Homo sapiens: one gene and its partners. The protein of the gene in region 4 interacts with the protein of the main gene of each other region in a biochemical or structural test. Each region holds a gene or a part of one and is shown on either strand. Other genes may lie near its edges.

The links. Proteins that work in one complex are often made in the same cells at the same time.
Region 1: of the proteins of TEC (region 4) and PTPRC, one has a biochemical effect on the other in vitro, tested with the Homo sapiens proteins (one large-scale study listed by IntAct).
Region 2: the proteins of TEC (region 4) and MET form a complex in vitro, tested with the Homo sapiens proteins (one large-scale study listed by BioGRID and IntAct).
Region 3: the proteins of TEC (region 4) and LRRK1 form a complex in vitro, tested with the Homo sapiens proteins (one large-scale study listed by BioGRID).

The regions. Positions count from the first base shown.
Region 1 is NC_000001.11:198,712,040-198,716,371, reverse strand, and holds part of PTPRC (receptor-type tyrosine-protein phosphatase C isoform 1 precursor), read right to left. Parts: intron 3,420-4,332; coding exon 3,300-3,419; intron 1-3,299. UniProt on the Homo sapiens protein: Protein tyrosine-protein phosphatase required for T-cell activation through the antigen receptor. Acts as a positive regulator of T-cell coactivation upon binding to DPP4.
Region 2 is NC_000007.14:116,752,196-116,756,527, reverse strand, and holds part of MET (hepatocyte growth factor receptor isoform b preproprotein), read right to left. Parts: intron 1,174-4,332; coding exon 1,013-1,173; intron 1-1,012. UniProt on the Homo sapiens protein: Receptor tyrosine kinase that transduces signals from the extracellular matrix into the cytoplasm by binding to hepatocyte growth factor/HGF ligand. Regulates many physiological processes including proliferation, scattering, morphogenesis and survival.
Region 3 is NC_000015.10:101,069,357-101,073,688, reverse strand, and holds part of LRRK1 (leucine-rich repeat serine/threonine-protein kinase 1), read right to left. Parts: 3' UTR 1-4,332.
Region 4 is NC_000004.12:48,259,181-48,264,343, forward strand, and holds part of TEC (tyrosine-protein kinase Tec), read right to left. Parts: intron 1-5,163.

The DNA of each region.
Region 1 (4,332 bases), on a different chromosome or scaffold from region 4:
GCCCCCAGTGTATACTGTAAGTCTTGAGTTGCATGTTTCAGAATGATTCTTTTTTAGAAAACCTTTTCTGATATGTAACCTCCAAACTTTGAACATCGGTATTAGCTACTGTTTTGAATGTTAGATGCAGAATCCATTTGATCATCAGTCATTGGGTTGATTCTATCATAGTAATTTGGACACTACAGTAATTAACGGGAGCTGTGAGAATGAGGGAGTTTCATGCCGGAAGTGGAATTCAGCTGTTCATTGAAAGGTAAGTGGAACTGAATACATGTAAGGGAGAAAAGAAAATATTACAAACGGAAGAAGGAATGTTTTTGAGTTTAGTGACAAACCTGATCAGGACAACAGCTCTGGCTGGGGAGGCATATGAGAGGTAGGACAGTGTCTAAGTGTGTTTTCACACTCAGGCAGAAGACTTAGCACTTGTTAAGTAAAAAAATCACCAGCTGCTGCTATTTTTGAGTAGCCAAGTGACATCAGGAAAGAGGATGATTAGAGTGGCAACATGTTTCTGGATAGCAGCAACAGTAATAATAATATCAATAACGATTTTTAAAAATAATAACTCACTGTATGTGCCAAGCACTGTTTCAAGGGGTATACATGAAATAATTAATTTAACCATCACTGCAACTATTAGTTGGTACTCACTATCATCTGATTTTACAGATGACAAAACTGAGCCACAGAGAGATTAAGCAATTTGTTCTGTTTTTTTTTTCTTAAAAAAATAAAAGGCATTACACAAAATAATTTCCAGCAACATCATGGTGGTCTTGAAAGGTGCCTATTGCTTTCAGTAACTTTTGAAAAATAATCCTTTAAATCCAATAAAGCACAAAAGATCTCTTCCCCAATTCCCCAATTACCAAGAAGCTTCACTGTCACTTGCCATCATTAAGTTAACGAGATAAAACTGCAGTTCTCCAAAATATCTTAAGCTAAAAATGTGAGGAAAAATAAACAAACACACTTTGGGAGGCCGAGGCGGGCGGATCGGATCACACGAGATCAGGAGATCCAGACTATCCTGGCTAACACAGTGAAACCCCGTCTCTACTAAAAATACAAAAAAATTAGCCGGGCGTGGTGGCGGGCGCCTGTAGTCCCAGCTACTAGGGAGGCTGAGGCGGGAGAATGGCGTGAACCTGGGAGGCGGAGCTTGCAGTGAGCCGAGATCGCATGACTGCACTCCAGCCTGGGCGACAGAGGGAGACTCCCTCTCAAACAAACAAACAAACAAAACCAAGAGCAGAAAGGAAACAGATCAAGCTACTGAACTTGAACATCTATCACATTTTCTGTTAACCTCAGTTTCATCATATGAACTATGAAGATATGTATGCACATCTCCACTGAGTTATTAAAATAGTTGATAAAATCTTTAAATAATACATAATTAAAAAAACCTGCTAAACCAATAAAACTAAATTAATGTCAATTGCATTTTTTCTCCTCTTTTAATCCCTCTCTTTTAGAGACACTGAAAAAATTAAATTGTGAAGTAATGAAGTGAAATTTAATATCTGATTAAAAAGTAAACTGCAAATTTCATAGACTTTCTTCCTGTGGATTTTTAATAGTAATTTTATTTAAAATGGTGAGAAAAGTTAAGTTGCCTTAACGATACTATAATCCTATCAACTCTCTTTGCCTTAGGTAACATGGGAGAGGAGACAGGTATATGTTTGAGATGAAGGAGAAAACAAAAGCGGAGCACGCTGTTTAGAGTAGAGCTGGCTCCAAAGAGCCCTTTATGCAGTGTCAGGGCATGGTCCAAAGCTGCATTCAGTCACCAATCGGCAGCTTTGGAGAAAAGAAAACACACAGCCTGATAGCTAGCCTCCCCTTCTCAGCCATTCAATCCCGTTTAAGTGTTCTATGTGGACAGCTGTTAAATTTGGGTAACACTATTTAGTTGCCCAATAAGAAGGACCCATGCTAGTTGCTGTAATGAGTTGCTACTAACTCATTACATCCTTTTTACCCTAATTATGCAAATACAGTGGAAATACAGTTTAAAAAAACTGTAAAAATATAAAAGAGCCATAAATGCATAAAATGTCTACCATATACTCTGACATCGACAATACTCTCTAGTAGAGAGAGTGTAGACATTGAGGAATGCAGAAAGGGATAGTGAATAGAAGATTCAGAGAAGAGAAAAAAAAAATGAACAATGTGTTCCCATAGAAGCTACACAAAGTGTTTGTAAAAGAGGTGTCCAATGAGGCAGACAGTACCTCTGCTGTTTTATCTTCCTGGAATTTCCATTTTTCCTTCCACATAGACTTAACTTTTAAATTTATCATAACCTCAAATATATAGTATATATTTATTTTCCTTGGCCTTTGAATGTTAATTTGAAAACTACATGCATATTTAACTTTGCTTTAGTAGTCTGATTATTAAGACCTAAAGACACTAGCAAGAAAAGGCCATTAAAATATAAAATAACATAATGAAGAAAAATAGCCTTTCACTTTTCAAGTTTTGAAGTGTATGTCTGGTTCCTTCCCCACAGCACAGAGTGACAGAATTCTATGAGGTTCACTTCATTCCTATTTTAACCTATGGATAAAAGAATAGAGAAAGGGCTATCCCAGGCATTGAGGCTGCTCTGAGATACTCCACTGATGTTACTTTCTACAAACAATTTAGATACTTTAAATTGTCCAGAAGATATTTGTTCTCTTAAATAGCATCTCATTTGAACATTTCATGAGTGAACTAGTCATAGCACATTTCTTTCTTCTTCTTTTTTTTTTTAATTGCATTACTTCTGCAGAAGTCTAATTCTAAACTTAGAACTATGCTCCCAAGATTACACCAAACTGGCCCCAGCGGCTACATGGGCCCATGTTCATTTTTATTCACCCAACATTTTGTCTGTATTATTAGCTGAAACAAGTTTTACAAGGGGTTTGCTTGTTTGTTGGTTTGTTTAGGAGGCTGAATGATGAGTTCAAAGTGAGTCAAATCACTTACATAATACTTGCAAGACAGAAATGAGTGTTGTCATCCAGAGGTTTTCTGTCTCTAGGCTTTGGAGCACAAAGATTTAAACTAAGACCAAGAAGGACAAGCAAATATTTAGAATGTTCTGGATTTTAGTCATTTCTGGGGCTGGAAAGCTTTGAATGAGTGGAAGCAATTCTAAGATCAGGGAGTATACTATGCCTATGCAGTCTCTAAGCAGAGAGCTTTGTGACTCACTGGCTCAATAAAAATTTCTAGTACTTTCAAATTCTTGATTTCTCTTTTCTGATGAAATTAAATTCTACACAAATTACCTGTCTCTTTTATATAACAGAGGGTAAAATTATGAAATGATCTTTGAGGGGGATTCCAGGTAATTACTCCTTGATGTGCAGCTTCACTTCTACAAAAAATAATCTGAGGCTCTCCTGGACCTGTTAAAAGAATAAGAATGTTATGTAATATGAAAAATAAGACATGGATAAAGCATTCTTCATATTATAAGCATGCATTATTGATAACCATATTTTGACAAATGATGAATTCAAAATAAAATTTAAAGAAATGCATCTGGGCTCATTTAATTTGTTTTAGAGTAAATTCCTTTAACAAAGTAAATGTCACACCAGATTGGCACTGTGAAACCTAAGCATTCCACTGACTTGAAGATATCTAAGAACCCCCTCTTCCTTTCATATACATTATTCATATATATTCTTGCCCAGATACTACCTAAAAATCCTGGAATTTGTAGATTTTGCTGTGCTAAAAATCTGGCATTCATAGCACCAATAAATTTAGCAGTCATTGAGTAGCACTTGTCATTGCTTCCAGTAACTAGTCATTTGAAACTGAGAAAAACTGATAAATGTTTAAATAAAATGTCTGAAGTAAAATTTACATTAAAATGTACCCATTTGAGATACAGTTTAATGCATTTTTAACAAATGTATACATCCACATAACCAACACCACAATCAAGATAAAGAAAATTTCTGTGATCCCAAAATGTCCTTCTGTGGTACTTCCCAGTCAACTCAGCTCCTTTGACCAGACTCACGTACCTTCTGATCAACTTTCTGTTAACTACAGATTAAGTTTGTCTTTTTACCCATTGCATGTAAATAAAATGAAACAAACAGTAAGTACTTTTTCACTCCTAACATATTGCACTCAATGTAATGTTCTGAAGATTCATTCACTTAGTTGCATGTGTCATAGTTAGAATTTTAAAAAATTATCAGTAGTTATTGTAAAGATACACCACATTTTACCTAGGATTCAACAGTGAATACACATTTGGGCTGTTTCCAGGTTTTGGCTACTATGAATGCATCTGCTTTGTCA
Region 2 (4,332 bases), on a different chromosome or scaffold from region 4:
ATGATTAAGAGTTTTGGAGATTTTACAAGGGAGATTTCTAGAAAAAATTTGTTTTGCCATTCAGCTAACAAATATTACCTTCATTAGTGTTTTGGTCTCAGTAAAATGGATAGATTCGGACCTTTGTGTAACCCTGAAATGAATTCTATTAGATATAAAATAACCACCTGATAGAATGGGTTCAATCATAAAGATTCAACCATAAAACTTTAAATATTTGAGTGTTGTTATTATGTGATAATGAATAATTTCTGGATTCTCTGATGATTATGGAATTCAAAGCTTGTAGAAGGGTACATGTAGAATACAGTAGAACTAGCACGGGTCTTGGATCAGAAGATGATCAGAGCTGAGCTGAAGGCTTGTTCAGCTCTTACTCTCTGGATTACCTCTGTGAAGCCACACTTCATCTCTCTGAACTTCAGGTACCTCTTTTATATTATAGGAATGATACTGCTCCCTCCCAGGACCGTGGGGATGGTTCAGTGAGATACAGCCCATATATTGCAGTGCCAGTAAATATAAGCTGAATATAAATTTTAACTCATCTAAAAAAGTCTCAAACACGTGATTCAGCTGCCTCACTACATTTCTGAGGTTTAGAAAGTGAATTTAAAAGAGAGGATCCATGCTGAGCTGTTTACTGATTTCTGTAGAAAAAGCCTTTGGAGACTCTACATTTGAAGACTCCAAGGATGAAGTGATCCCAACTAGTGCTACTCTTGCAAATCTACTCAGACAACACCTGAAGACTTGTCGCATAAATGGTTGAGAAACTCCCATTTCTGGCCTCTTCTCTTCACCTAGGCCATGTCACCTTTCTCTCTCTTCAAATCCAATGAGTAAATGGGATTACAAGAACAAAACAGAACAGACCCACAAGGCATGTGACAGGCCAAGACCCTTTTTAATTCAAGAGATGAGCTTCTTGAGCAATTTTAAAAGAAATATTCATTCAAAAACAAAACCTATTTTCCAAGCACACCCCAGCAAAGCATTTTAAGATCCTTACGTATTCATCGTGCTCTCACTTAAAGTCAAGGTGCAGCTCTCATTTCCAAGGAGAACTCTAGTTTTCTTTAAATCAAATTTATTATTCCTCCGAAATCCAAAGTCCCAGCCACATATGGTCAGCCTTGTCCCTCCTTCAAGGGGTGCACTATTTGGGAAAACCTACAAGGACAACATAGAACTTTTAAAAAAACCCAATATATTATAATTTTTCACATATATGGAAAACGAACAAACAAAATGTATATCCTTAAATAGTCTGAAATTCTTTCATTTTCCCACAATTTAGTAAAAATTTAATTTTCACTAAAGGGAAAAGGGTCACAAATTTCAGAGCATCTGGAACAAACATTAAAACTACATGACATGTTAATGAAACAAGTTGTTTTCAGGAGATCCAAAGATGGGACAAAGAGCAGATGCAGCTTGGTAGGAATAAAGGGGCTTTTCGAGTCCTTCCGTTCTTTCTTTCTTTTCTTTCTTTCTTTCTTTCTTTCTTTCTTTCTTTCTTTCTTTCTTTCTTTCTTTCTTTCCTTTCTCTGCTTCCTTCCTTCTCTTTCTTTCTCTTTCTTTCTTTCTTTCTTTCTTTCTTTCTTTCTTTCTTTCTTTCTTTCTTTCTTTCTCTCTTTCTCTCTCTCTCTCTTTCTTTCTTTTTCTTTCCCTCCCTTCCTTTCTTCCTTCTTTCTTTTCTTTTCTTTTTCAGACAGAGTCTGGCTCTGTTGTTCAGGCTGGAGTGCAGTGGCGTGATCATGGCTCACTGCAGCCTCAACCTCTTGAGCTCAAGCAATCCTCCCACATTAGCCTCCTGAGTAGCTGGGATCACAGGCGTGGGCCACCATGCTTGGCTATTTTTTTTTTTTCTAGAGACAGGGTCTCACTACGTTGCCCAGCTGGTCTCAAACTCCTGGGCTCAAGTGATCCTCCTGCCTTGGCCTCCCAAAGTGCTAGGATTACAAGCATGAGCCATTGGACCTGGCCCTTTTTGGGCCATTCTGAAGTGAATTCATCTTCTAGGGCTCTTTAGGGTAGGAGTAGAAACACGTTGGGCCCAGACTTTTACTTGCTCATAACTCTGATTGTAACTCTTCATCAGCCTTCGGACTGAGCTCTTATCAAACTCCTTCATGTGCTCTATAAGCCAAGGTCCAGCCATTATACGCCTTGCTCTGTGCACTGGCTGCGTGCACTACATTCTGGTTGCTATGGTATTCCCCACCCAGAGACAAAAGTTGCACAGTAAAAATACCTCATTTGGTATCCAGTGTTTGCCCAGTTGCATTCAGCAGCTAGCATAATATGAAACATATAGATGGTTTTGGAACACATATCTGCCAATAATTCATTCATTCATTCATTCATTCATTATTTACTTATTTACTTTTAGAGATGGGGGTCTCACTCTTGCCCAGTCTGCAGTGCAGTGGCATAGTCCTAGCTCACTGCAGCCTCAAACTCCTGGGCTCAAGCAATCCTCCCGCCTCAGCCTCTCTAGTAGACAGGACTACAGGTGTGCGCCACCTCACCCAGCTAATTTTTAAATTTCTGTAGAGACGGGGTCTTGTTATGCTGCCCAGGTTTCATTAATTATTTCTTAATAAAGCACCTCCTATGCACCAGGCACTAACAAATGAAAAGTGAATCTACTTCTTTTTACCTATTAGTTCACATTTATTAATGACTGAAGATTTTTCCTTGTTCTTTAAATATGGTCACTATTTGATGTATACCAGGCTGGTTAGTTGACACACTCAGCCTTTTAAAAATTATGTAATATTTAATACATGTGTTATGTTGTTTCTTTTAGAAATAGATAAAAACGGAACCAGAGAGGGCCCAAAATCAGTATTGTAACAATTTTTCCTAATTATCTTCATTGGTATTGTTTTATATCTCATTTTTAGGATTAAATTTTTCCCCCTGATGGTTGATGTTAAGCAAATAACAGACTCATTTTGTTATTGCAGACTCATTTCTGGTATGTTATCAATGGATTTATTGATAAACCTTGGTCAGTCATGATTTAAGACCGCATTAGGCACCTATAAAGTGTGTAAGATAATTGCTCTCAGGCTAAAACTATTAAAACAAAACACATTTCCAAGTTAAAAATAAGCTTCTTCTCAGCAGCTTTGTGACAATTGAGAAAGGAAATGCTCTTTTGGGGGTGGGGACATATTGTAAATTGTGCTGTAAAGTACAATGGTGGGAAAACTAAGATAGAGGCAACTCAAGAACCAGTAAAGGTATTTGCTAAAGCTCAGCTTGTGAACATCTAAAAGTGATTCTTTTACAATTAAGAAGGGCTTTTAGCCAAATTCAAACTTGCAAACATTTCCATCCTTCCTAAGTAAATAATTGCAAACCAAAGTCTTAATGTACCCTCGTTATCAAACCCCTTTAAAGTTTTAGCTTAAAGCTTTTATGATAGCCATTTTACCCATAAAAATCCATTACACTGTTGTGCCTTTCCTGAAAATTTACCTCATCCATGTCTAGTCAAATGAGAACTACTAGAAAAATAAATCTGTTTATTATTATTATGGTAGAAATCCAGTAGGAGAGAACAAGACATCCAACCCTCCCAGGACTCTCTTCAGCCTGAGGCAGTCACACAGCTGCTGCCGGCTCTTCTAATGAGGAGGCTTCCCCACTGAAAACGCTGCCCAAGGCTGATGTTGGCCTGATCCCACTGCCTACATCCCGTCTTTCTATGTAAAAACTGAAGTCTGTCACTCTACACACATCATTACCATCACTTTCTATAAAAGGCAAACGGATTGGGTGATGATTTGAGAAAAGACGCAGAGAGCTGCGCAACTGGGGCACTGGCAATAGGAAGAGATATTATAAGCCCTCTGCTAGACCCTCAGGATCCAAGAGGCTCGCTCTGCTTAGCTTTTCTCTCTGGGCTGGGCATTTTCCCCTTAGCTTATGGGGTAACCTTTACCCTTCTAGGGAAAAAGGAAGGAAGCAGTTGTGAACTACACACCCTTGGATAGACCCAACAATGGCTGGCAAACTCTGAGTTATCCTGAAGGGCAGAGAAACTCTGTGGGCAGGAAATGAGCGTCCGGCATAAAGCCACAGAGGCTGGGTCTCCTACCTGTCTGGATAGGGGAGATACAGCCACAAAAGTAGCCCTTGTCTTTTCACAGGTGAAAGATCACATCACTGATGGGCCCATTCCAACAGTATTTTAAATGATCATGCTTTCAAAACCCATTAGGATAAAACATGAGAAAACTAAAAAACAAAAACAAAACAGAACAAAAAAACTCCAAAAGGGGTCTCCTTTCCTCTTTAGTAGAACTCACAAATATA
Region 3 (4,332 bases), on a different chromosome or scaffold from region 4:
ATACGAGGTCGGGATGTGGAAATAAGGGATCAAGGTGCAGAGATATAAGAGGTGGGGGCATGGAAATAAGGGATTGGGGCACAGAGATAAGAGGTTGGGGCACAGAAATAAGGGATTGGGGCGCAGAGATATGAGGTTGGAGTACTTGCTCCTCCTCTAGAAAAGCGGGACTTGCCGCTCAGGGTGAAGGAGAAGGGGTTGGGGGTTTCTTGCCCCCCAGAAAGGCGGAGAAGGGGTAGAGACACGGAGAGAAGGGGTTGGGGTCCTTGCCCATTCCCCAGAAAAGCGGGACTTGCCGCTAAGGGTGAAGGACCAAGGCAGGCGTCCCTGCGTGGTCTGACACCTCTGAAACCTGGGTGAATAATCAGAGAGGTGTCCCTGCAATGATTAAACACCAAGGGAAGGCTGCCTTCCCAGTCCGTGACCGGCGCTGGAGTTTTGGGTCCACGGATAAAACGTGTCTCCTTTATCTCTACCAGAAAATGAAAGGAATTGAAGTTAAGAGAAGGGAGAAATTGAAGTGTGGCGCCAAGATTGAAAGGAGAAAGAGGTTGAGGGATAGTGAGGGAGGTTGGAGAAGAGAGTAAAAAGAGGCTGCTTACTGGATTTGAAATTGGTGAGATGTTTCTTGGGCTGGTTGGTCTGAGGACTTGAGGTTGTAGGTGGATCTTTCTCATGGACCAAAGAGCAGGAGGACAGGGGATTGATCTCCCAAGGGAGGTTCCCCCCCCCCTCCCCCCGCGCCAGTTACGGCACCAAATTTAATGCACGTCCATGTGAAGAGACCACCAAACAGGCTTTGTGTGAGCAACAAGGCTGTTTATTTCACCTGGGCGCAGGTGGGCTGAGTCCGAAAAGGGAGTCAGTGAAGGGAGATAGGCGTGAGGCCGTTTTATAAGATTTGGGTAGGTAAAGGAAAAAGGGGGTTTGTTCTCTGGCGGGCAGGAGTGGGGGTGGCAACGTGCTCAGTGGGGGAGCTTTTTGAGCCAGGATGAGCCAGGAGAAGGAATTTCATAAGATAATGTCATCAGTTAAGTCAAGGACCGGCCTTTTTCACTTCTTTTGTGGTGGAATGTCATCAGTTAAGGCGGGGCAGGGCATATTCACTTCTTTTGTGATTCTTCAGTTACTTCAGGCCATCTAGGCATATACGTGCAAGTCACAGGGGATGCGATGGCTTGGCTTGGGCTCAGAGGCCTGACGCACTGTGCTGCAAGCTGCTTTCAAACAAATGCATTTATTATATCTTGGAGAACATTCCAGTCCAGCAGTTAGTGCTGCCTGCCTCTTTGACAGGCTGCAGAGGATGGCACTGTTGCATGTGCAGGAATTTTATGACCTCCCTCATGATAGAGGTTGGGGTTGCTTCCTGTTTGGGGCCATATTCTAAGAGATGCTATAGTGAACATCCTTGTTCTGTATCTTTGGGCACTTTTACCAAGATTTCAGGACCAAATACTTAAGTGGAACTGCTGGGTCAGAGGGTATGTGCATTTGAAATTTTGGTAGATAAGTCCAGAATGCCCTCCAAGGGGTAGCCTCCAACTACCCCCTCGTTAATCCACCCTCCATTCAGCAAAGTGAGTTGTAAAGTTGACTGAATCATCTAATAATCCTGCTTAAAACTGCCAGGAGCTTCCGCGGAGACCCCCACTTGCAATTCTGTGTGCACAGTCCCCTCCTTCAAGGCCGCAGCCACGCCAGGCTCTCCTGTCCCTCCCACACAGTGGCTTGAACCCACAACAGGGTCTTTGCATGTGCAAGGCCCTTGCACCCAGTGCCCTCAGAGCTCCATGGAATGCCTTCTTCCCATTCCTCAGTCTCACATTGTACCTCCTGGTGCAGGCTGCAGGCCTCGCCAGCCTCAGTCAAATGTAACGTTCCTAGGCCAAGCCACGAATTGCCCAACTGGGTGGTCCGGCTGCCCTGCTATCTCACTTGTTTGTGTGCTTATTGTCAACTCTACCTATGAGGAGTGAGCTCCTAAAAGCAGAGATTCGGCCAGCGCAGGTAGCTCACACCTGTAATCCCAGCACTTTGGGAGGATGAGGCGGGCGGATCACCTGAGCTCAGGAGTTCAAGACCATCCTGGCCAACATGGTGAAACCCCGTTTCTACTGAAAATACAAAAATTATCCAGGCATTGTGGTGCACGCCTGTAATCGCAGCTACTCGGGAGGCTGAGGCAGGAGAATTGCTTGAACCTGGGAGGCGGAGGTGGCAGTGAGCTGAGATCGCGCCATTGCACTCCAGCCTGGGCAACAGAGCGAGACTCCGTCTCAAAAAACAAAAACAAAACAAAACAAAAAAAACACAGAGATTCTTGACTGTGTCTCCGGTCACAGTGCCTGACACTTAGTAGGTGTTTAAGAAGGAGATGCTGGCTGGTTACCACCCTCTGCCAACATGAGGGTGGTAAGTGACATCTATCTGAGATGCCTGTGGTCCAGCTGATGTTGACAGGGTCCTCAGGGTGCCCCCCACCCCCTCACTGAAGCATGAGCTCTTCTACACCCGCCAGAGGTCACTGGGCAGAGGCCAAAGTTGCAGGGACCATGCTGAATGCTGGGCCCATCCCAGCAACATTTTACTGTTGTGGAGACTGTTTCCCTGCTGTTGGGTGAGGTCAAGCATTGATGTTTAAGGGTCTGTCTGTTTCTTTGTAATTCAATTGCTGCCCATGCCCTTAACCTGTTTGCCTTTCCGGTTTTCTGTTTCTTATTGACATTACGAACTCTCTGTAATGAAGATAAGTGAGGTCTTTGTCTCTCATTTGTGTTGCAATGTTTTTTTTTCTCAGTTGCTAGTCTTTTAGGCTTTGGACTAATTTTCCACGTAAGTTTCAATTTCATGGAGTCAAGTTCATTAGTCATTTCCTGTATTTTTTTTTTTTTTTTAAGAGTTGGGTCTTGCTCTGTCACCCAGGCTAGAAAGCTGGTGTGATCATAGCTCACTGTAACCTCCAACTCCCAGGCTCAAGGGTTCCTCCTGCCTTGGCTCCTGGGTAGCTGGGACTTTAGGCCTGTATGATTTCTAACTGTGATGTGATGAGATCCCCTCCCCTGGCTCTGTGAGGCCTGGGGCTGGGCTTTTCCAGGAGTAGGAGAGGGTGAATTTTGGTGCCTGCAAAGCAGCCTGGCCTCGCGTGATGCCAAAGCAAAAGCTTGGGGCCTGGGGCAGATGGAATCTGGCTTGCATCTGGGGGTTAACTGGGCAGTTGTGGGGCACTGGAATGAGAGGAGAGGGAGAGTGGGACTCCTGAGACCCTGCTGTGGGATGAGGGTGAGAGAATGGCAGGGAGGTAGACAGGAAGCACAGACCCTCAGCCCCCTGGGACTTGGTGCCCAGGTTGGTAAAAAAAAAAAAAAAAAAAAAAAAAAGAGTGGGGGGACTCGCTTTTTCCAAGCCTGTGACTGACAGAGCAGCGTCTCCACCCATGGAAGCTGCTCAGGGGCCACCTGCATGTTGGCACAGTGGGCAAGGAGGGGCTGCCCATTATCCCCAGACAGCGAGTGGGTCTGGGAGGGACTGAGCCCGTGCTGTGGTCATAAGCGCTCAAAAGACAGAGGCCACAGCTTCGTTCTTGAAAGAATCTGTTTATTTTGAGATTAAAAGAGTCTCATCTCCCTGCATATCCAGCAAATACTAAATTTGATCTTTTTAATTTTAGAAAAGGGTCAACAAACTTCAGCTGGAGTATGATCTCTCTTTCAAACTCCCATTCTGGTTTAAGGAGCCCCAAAGGGTAACTCTTGACAAAAAAGTGGCTATGTTTGCACATGTGTGTGCATATGTGTGTGCATGTGTGTAATGCATGTGCATAGTTTATAAAATGTTTGCTGTTGTATCCATAAATCCCCTGTGGACAACGTTCCTTTTCGTACTCCGCTGTACACGTGTGCAGTGAATGTTTAGCAAATACATAATTTGGTATAAATCCCATACAATGTGATTTCACAACCAGAAGCCTGACTGCTGAGATATTACTGAATTTTTTAAAGTGATAAACAAGATTATTATGTGCAAACAAACAGGGCCTGTGCTCCAGCTGCGTCCAAATTTACTTGACAAAGCTATAAACACAAGGCCCTTTCTGAAGTCCTGCTGATTGAGTTTCCCCTTCCTTTTGTCGGTGGAGAGGAATGTAAAGGCTAAGCGGGTGCACTCGGACTGTGTGCCTCTGGGCTTGCTGGCGGTGGCACTTAAAGGAACTCATTCATTCTCTGGATGGGGCAACACTCCTCACCCGGGATCCCCCAAGGGCTTTCCCACACGGAGACCTTCCCGAACACAGAGACATCTGATCTTGGCTTGCCCAAGCTGGCCCAGGCC
Region 4 (5,163 bases):
TGAACTGTTAATTATGTGTCATTATAGTTTGTTGAATAGATGCAAAACCTGAAGCACAGGAAAATAATTCCAGTTAATAGTTAACTTAGAAATCCATGCAAGGTAATGAAACAATATGTATAAAAACCCCTGTGACTCATGTTTGCCTACGTAACAAACCTTCACATGTACCCCCAAACCTAAAATAAAAGAAAAAAGAAATCCACCCAAGGCTTTAAACATTAGACCATGATATCTAGAAAGATGACAAAGGGGCTGGGCGCAGTGGCTCATGCCTGTAATCCCAGCACTTTGGGAGGCTGAAGCTGGCAGATCACTTGAGGTCAGGAGTTCGAGACCAGCCTGGCCAACGTGGCAAAAGCTCACCTCTACTAAAAATACAAAAAATAGCCGGGCGTGGTGGCACATGCCTATAGTCCCAGTTATTCAGGAGGCTGAGGCATGAGAATCTCCTAAACCCAGGAGGTGAAGATTGCAGTGAGTCGAGATCATGCCACTGTACTCCAGCCAGGGTGACAAAGTGAGACTTTGTCTCAAAAAAAAAAAAAAAAGAAAGATGTCAAAAGAAAAATCTGAACAGGAGCTCACTCTGCTGTAGTTCTTTATCAAGAAACTACATTAATGCAAAATTCTCTAACATTGCTGGTTGCCTTGCACACCTTACTGGGCCATGATTACTCAAGCAGTAGAGAAATGGCACAATGGATAGGAAGGCTGGAGTTTCCTGAGGACATAAGATGCCTTCCCGGGTCACACAAAGTTTCATAAACTCTAGACCAGGTACTGAGGTCAAATGTCATTGCACAGTTACATAACAACTCTTCCATGTTTTGTTACTGATCCTTGGAAAGTTTTCCTATAGACATCCAATAAGATGAAATGAGGCTCTACACATTACCAACAAGAACACAGTCTCTGCAAATGACCTGTCAGGTTCTTCTAGTTTTATCTGACCTATAACTGGGTACATAACATGGCCTCAAGCATTCTGGCTCTTCTTGTCCTCACATAACAGAGACACTGTAATTCTAAAAGGTCAAAAAAGAGAAAAAATGGAAACTTCACATTGCTAGTGAGTTATTTTATGACCTTCTAAAACTGATGAATAAAAGCTAGAAATCAGTCAGGTGTGGTGGCTCACACCTGTAATCCTAGAACTTTGGGAGGCCGAGGTGGGAGAATCACTTGAGGCCAGGAGTTCAAGACCAACCTGGCCAACATAGCAAGGCCTCATCGCTGCTTAATTTTCGTTTCAATGAGCTGGATGCAGTCATATGCATCTGCAATCCTAGCTACTCAGGAGGCTGAAGCCAGAGGCTGAAGCTCAAACCTTCTATTTAAGCCCAGGAGTTCGAGGCTGCAGTAATCTATGGTGATGGCACCACTGTGCTCCAGCCTAAGCAACAGAGCAAGACTCTGTCTCTAAAACAAAAAAAAAGAAAAAAAAAATCTAAGTGTCCAACAACTGGGGAGTGGCTCAAAATACCACCGTATGCTAACATGACAGAATTACCCAAAGAAAATTATGCATGGACTAATTACAACGTCATAAAGTAACTACCTGTGTATAAATAAAGATTGTAGAATTTGGAGTTACATAAACAGTTGTAACATAATGCTCCTTAATTATTTTCTAGAACATTGCTAAAGATTTATTAAAAGTCAGCTGGTAATAGAGATGACTGGAAGGGGATTCACAAAGATTCTCTCTGGAATGGTTTTAGGGTTATTTTTAATTTCTTCTTTGTAAGCTTCAGTATTGTTTACATCTTCTAACAAGGAATATATAAAACTCTACAAAATGACAATTTTTTTTTACTGATGGCAAGGAGAGTCCAAGGAGCACACCAGGTGTCTGAGAACCTCGGTGGCACCCAAAGATCAAACTTTTGCCTGGGGGAAGCAAGATGGTGTGTCAACAGCTCTGAGCCTAAAAAATGTCTTCTGGCTAGGACTCCAGAACTTATGAACAAGAATTATTTCATGCAATGCTTCTATAACTGGTTTAAGTATGTGACAAAGACACTGACAATCCTTAAAAAAATTCAAAAGCATGTATACCTAAATTTACATGTCTGACAGCATTCAAACCCAGTTAAATTGTATTTCTGTTTCCCTGCATGGTTGAAGGATCAAGCATTTTTATCACCCAAGCAGGAAAATGAAGAAATCAACTGCCTTCTACAAATCAAAAATAACCCTAATAGTAAAAACTAACTTTGTTGCATGCTTAAATCATATTGGCAGAAAAATGAAACTTTAAATCACTCTTGTAAGAAAAAAAGCCAGTTTCATTTTTGGGGCAGTCATATGGAAATCCCACAAGTCGTGGTTGAAACATAATATTGAGGAGTATGTGAGGACATTAAGAGTTTCTAAGGAAATAGTAACAAAAGATATCATTGGAATTCCATGAAGGATAAGAGAAGAAAAATCAAAGGTTTTTCCTACTAAATCACATTATAATGTCACCAAAATTAAAAATAAAAGGAGTAGGATACTTGACAGGGAGTTTCACCTTGTAAGTATCTCATATAGTACATGACAAGTTAAAGTCTGTCGCTTTGATACTCTATTGTAAGCATTTCAAGGTTAAAAGCTTTAACCTTGAAAAACAAATGACATATAGTTACAAAAGGCAAAAGTATATATTGTAGAAATCCAAACAAAAGTGTTCCTCCTTTAGAAACATAAAACTGATGAGATAACATAATGAATACTTACTTCCCTCCCTCCTCCAAAAGCCATTCTTTGTAGCCATAAAAACTAAGATAATCATAACACTATGCTAAGAAAAAATATACAGATGGAAAATAATGATAATAATGTATGTTGTCCTTTCAAGAATGTTTTCAGTGAAGAATATTTCTAAATAATACAAGAAACAATACACTTGAGAAAACTTAAATTGAATGCTCTATATTTCAATCCATATATAGACAAGTGATGTGAAAGTCTAATCAAGAATTTAGAGAATTTAGATTGTTGAGTACAACTTGGGTAATTGTGACCAAATGTCTCTTTTTTTTTTTTTGAGACGGAGTCTTGCTCTGTTGCCCAGGCTGGAGTGCAGTGGTGCGATCTCAGCTAACTGCAACCTCTGCTACCTGAGTTCAAGAGATTCTCCTGCCTCAGCCTCCCGAGTAGCTGGAATTACAGGCACGTGCCACCAGGCCCACCTAATTTTTGTATTTTTAGTAAAGATGGGGTTTCACCATATTGGCCAGGCTGGTCTTGAACTCCTGACTTCAAGTGATCCACCTGCCTCAGCCTTCCAAAGTGCTAGGATTACAGCCATGAGCCACCACTCTTGGCCCAAATATCATTTTTTCTTAACTATAAAGTGTCCAAAATTGTCTGGAAAATTCATTCAGTATATTAAGTACTTGCTTGGTACTATGCTTTCCCTAGGAAAGAACTTCTGTGAAGACCCAGTACATTACAGAAAAACTATACTGCCTGGAAAAGGGAGGTTCCAATGACTTCAAAGACTTCGTTTAGAAAAGGGAAGGATGCTTGTGGAAGCACAGTGGGAGGAATGAGCTCTGCAGTATCCCTACTAGCCAAGCTTTTGTTCACAATGGTGCCTAGTGGTACCTGCTGAAAAAGCCTTTTTAACCATCTGTCATCCTCCAAAGATAAAGTAATTGTTGCACCCACTCCATTGTCACAATCGCCAGCACTCCTGTTTTCTGTATTGCCAATGCATAGCTGCCATCATGGGAAGATCGAGCTTTGCTTTTTCTGCACAGATAAGATGGCTTAGGAACAATTATCCTCCTACTTTTGTGGAAACTGACTCTTGTCATCATGTGTGTAACCATAAAGAATGTTGATGTTACAAAGCAACTGGGAGAGCATGCTGGAAGTTCACAGCCCATTAAGGGAGCCTGAGGAATGACTCAACTGATGAAATGACGTTGGGAAAGTCGTGATCATCCACAAACGGCAGGGTACATCAGCCCAGCCAGAAACAGGAACTTGGTTCACATTCCAAGGAGGGCACAAGTGGAAAGGGAAGTAAGGGTGCTGCTGCTGGTAAGGCAGTTGTGTGATAAACTGGCCTCCAGAAGGAAATAATGATAACTTCCATTGAGGCCACATGGCCATCAATGACACCAATCCCATCTTTCAGATTAAAATAATATTGGACTTAATAGAAGCTGCACTTCACTGAAAGGTAAAACATTCAGAGGTCAAGATGGCAGAAAGAGTCATCCTACACAAAGTGAATTCAAGAAACAGGAACAATAGGCCAGGCGGTGGCTCACACCTGTAATCTCAGCACTTTGGGAGGCCAAGGCAGGCAGATCACCTGAGGCCAGGAGTTCGAGGCCAGCCTGGCCAACATGGTGAAACCCTGTCTCTACTAAAAATACAAAAATTAGCTGGGTGTGGTGGCGTGCACCTGTAATCCCAGCTACTCGGGAGGCTGACGCAGGAGAATCACTTGAACCCAGGAGCTGAGATCATGCCACTGCACTCCAGTCTGGGTGACAGAGCGAGACTGTCTCCACCCCCGCCAAAAAAAAGAAAAGAAAGAAAGAAAGAAACAGGAACAAGGGCTCTATGCCAGTAATCTACGTACCACCCAACCTAAGATATAGGTTTTGCCCCCTATGACAACTATGATCAATTGGTAGTGTACACTTAGAGTTGTATATGAAGGCATCTGAGGTCCAAACTCGGCTCAGCGGCCCAGCCTGATCCGAAAATGTTTCCTGTGGGTAGAGGAAGGGGAAAACAGCAACACACTGCTATGACTGAATGGTGCCAGTCTCTGGATAGAGATTGGTAAAGAAATTATACTCTAGCCACTATTAGCAGACTGGACAAAAACCTCTACTTTCTCTCCCTTCTGAAAGCCTAAGACAATGACAATAAAGAAATTTTTTTATTTCATGTATAAATCAGCAAGGATGGAGAGAATGAGTGAAGAGACAATAGCAAAAACATTTTGGTGGAATAAGCAGAAGCCAAGAAATAATCTGATTTACACCATGGAATCTCCAAAAGGTTAAATAATTAAAGGCAATTGAACCCTCTATAAAAAGAGGGGTGGGCTAAAAAATTAGTGACTTTTTAAAGTCTTTTTAAAAAGCTGGATCCCACAGATCCCTCTGGCCACTCCAACCAGTTAGGTGACTGCCCCTTCTCTACCCC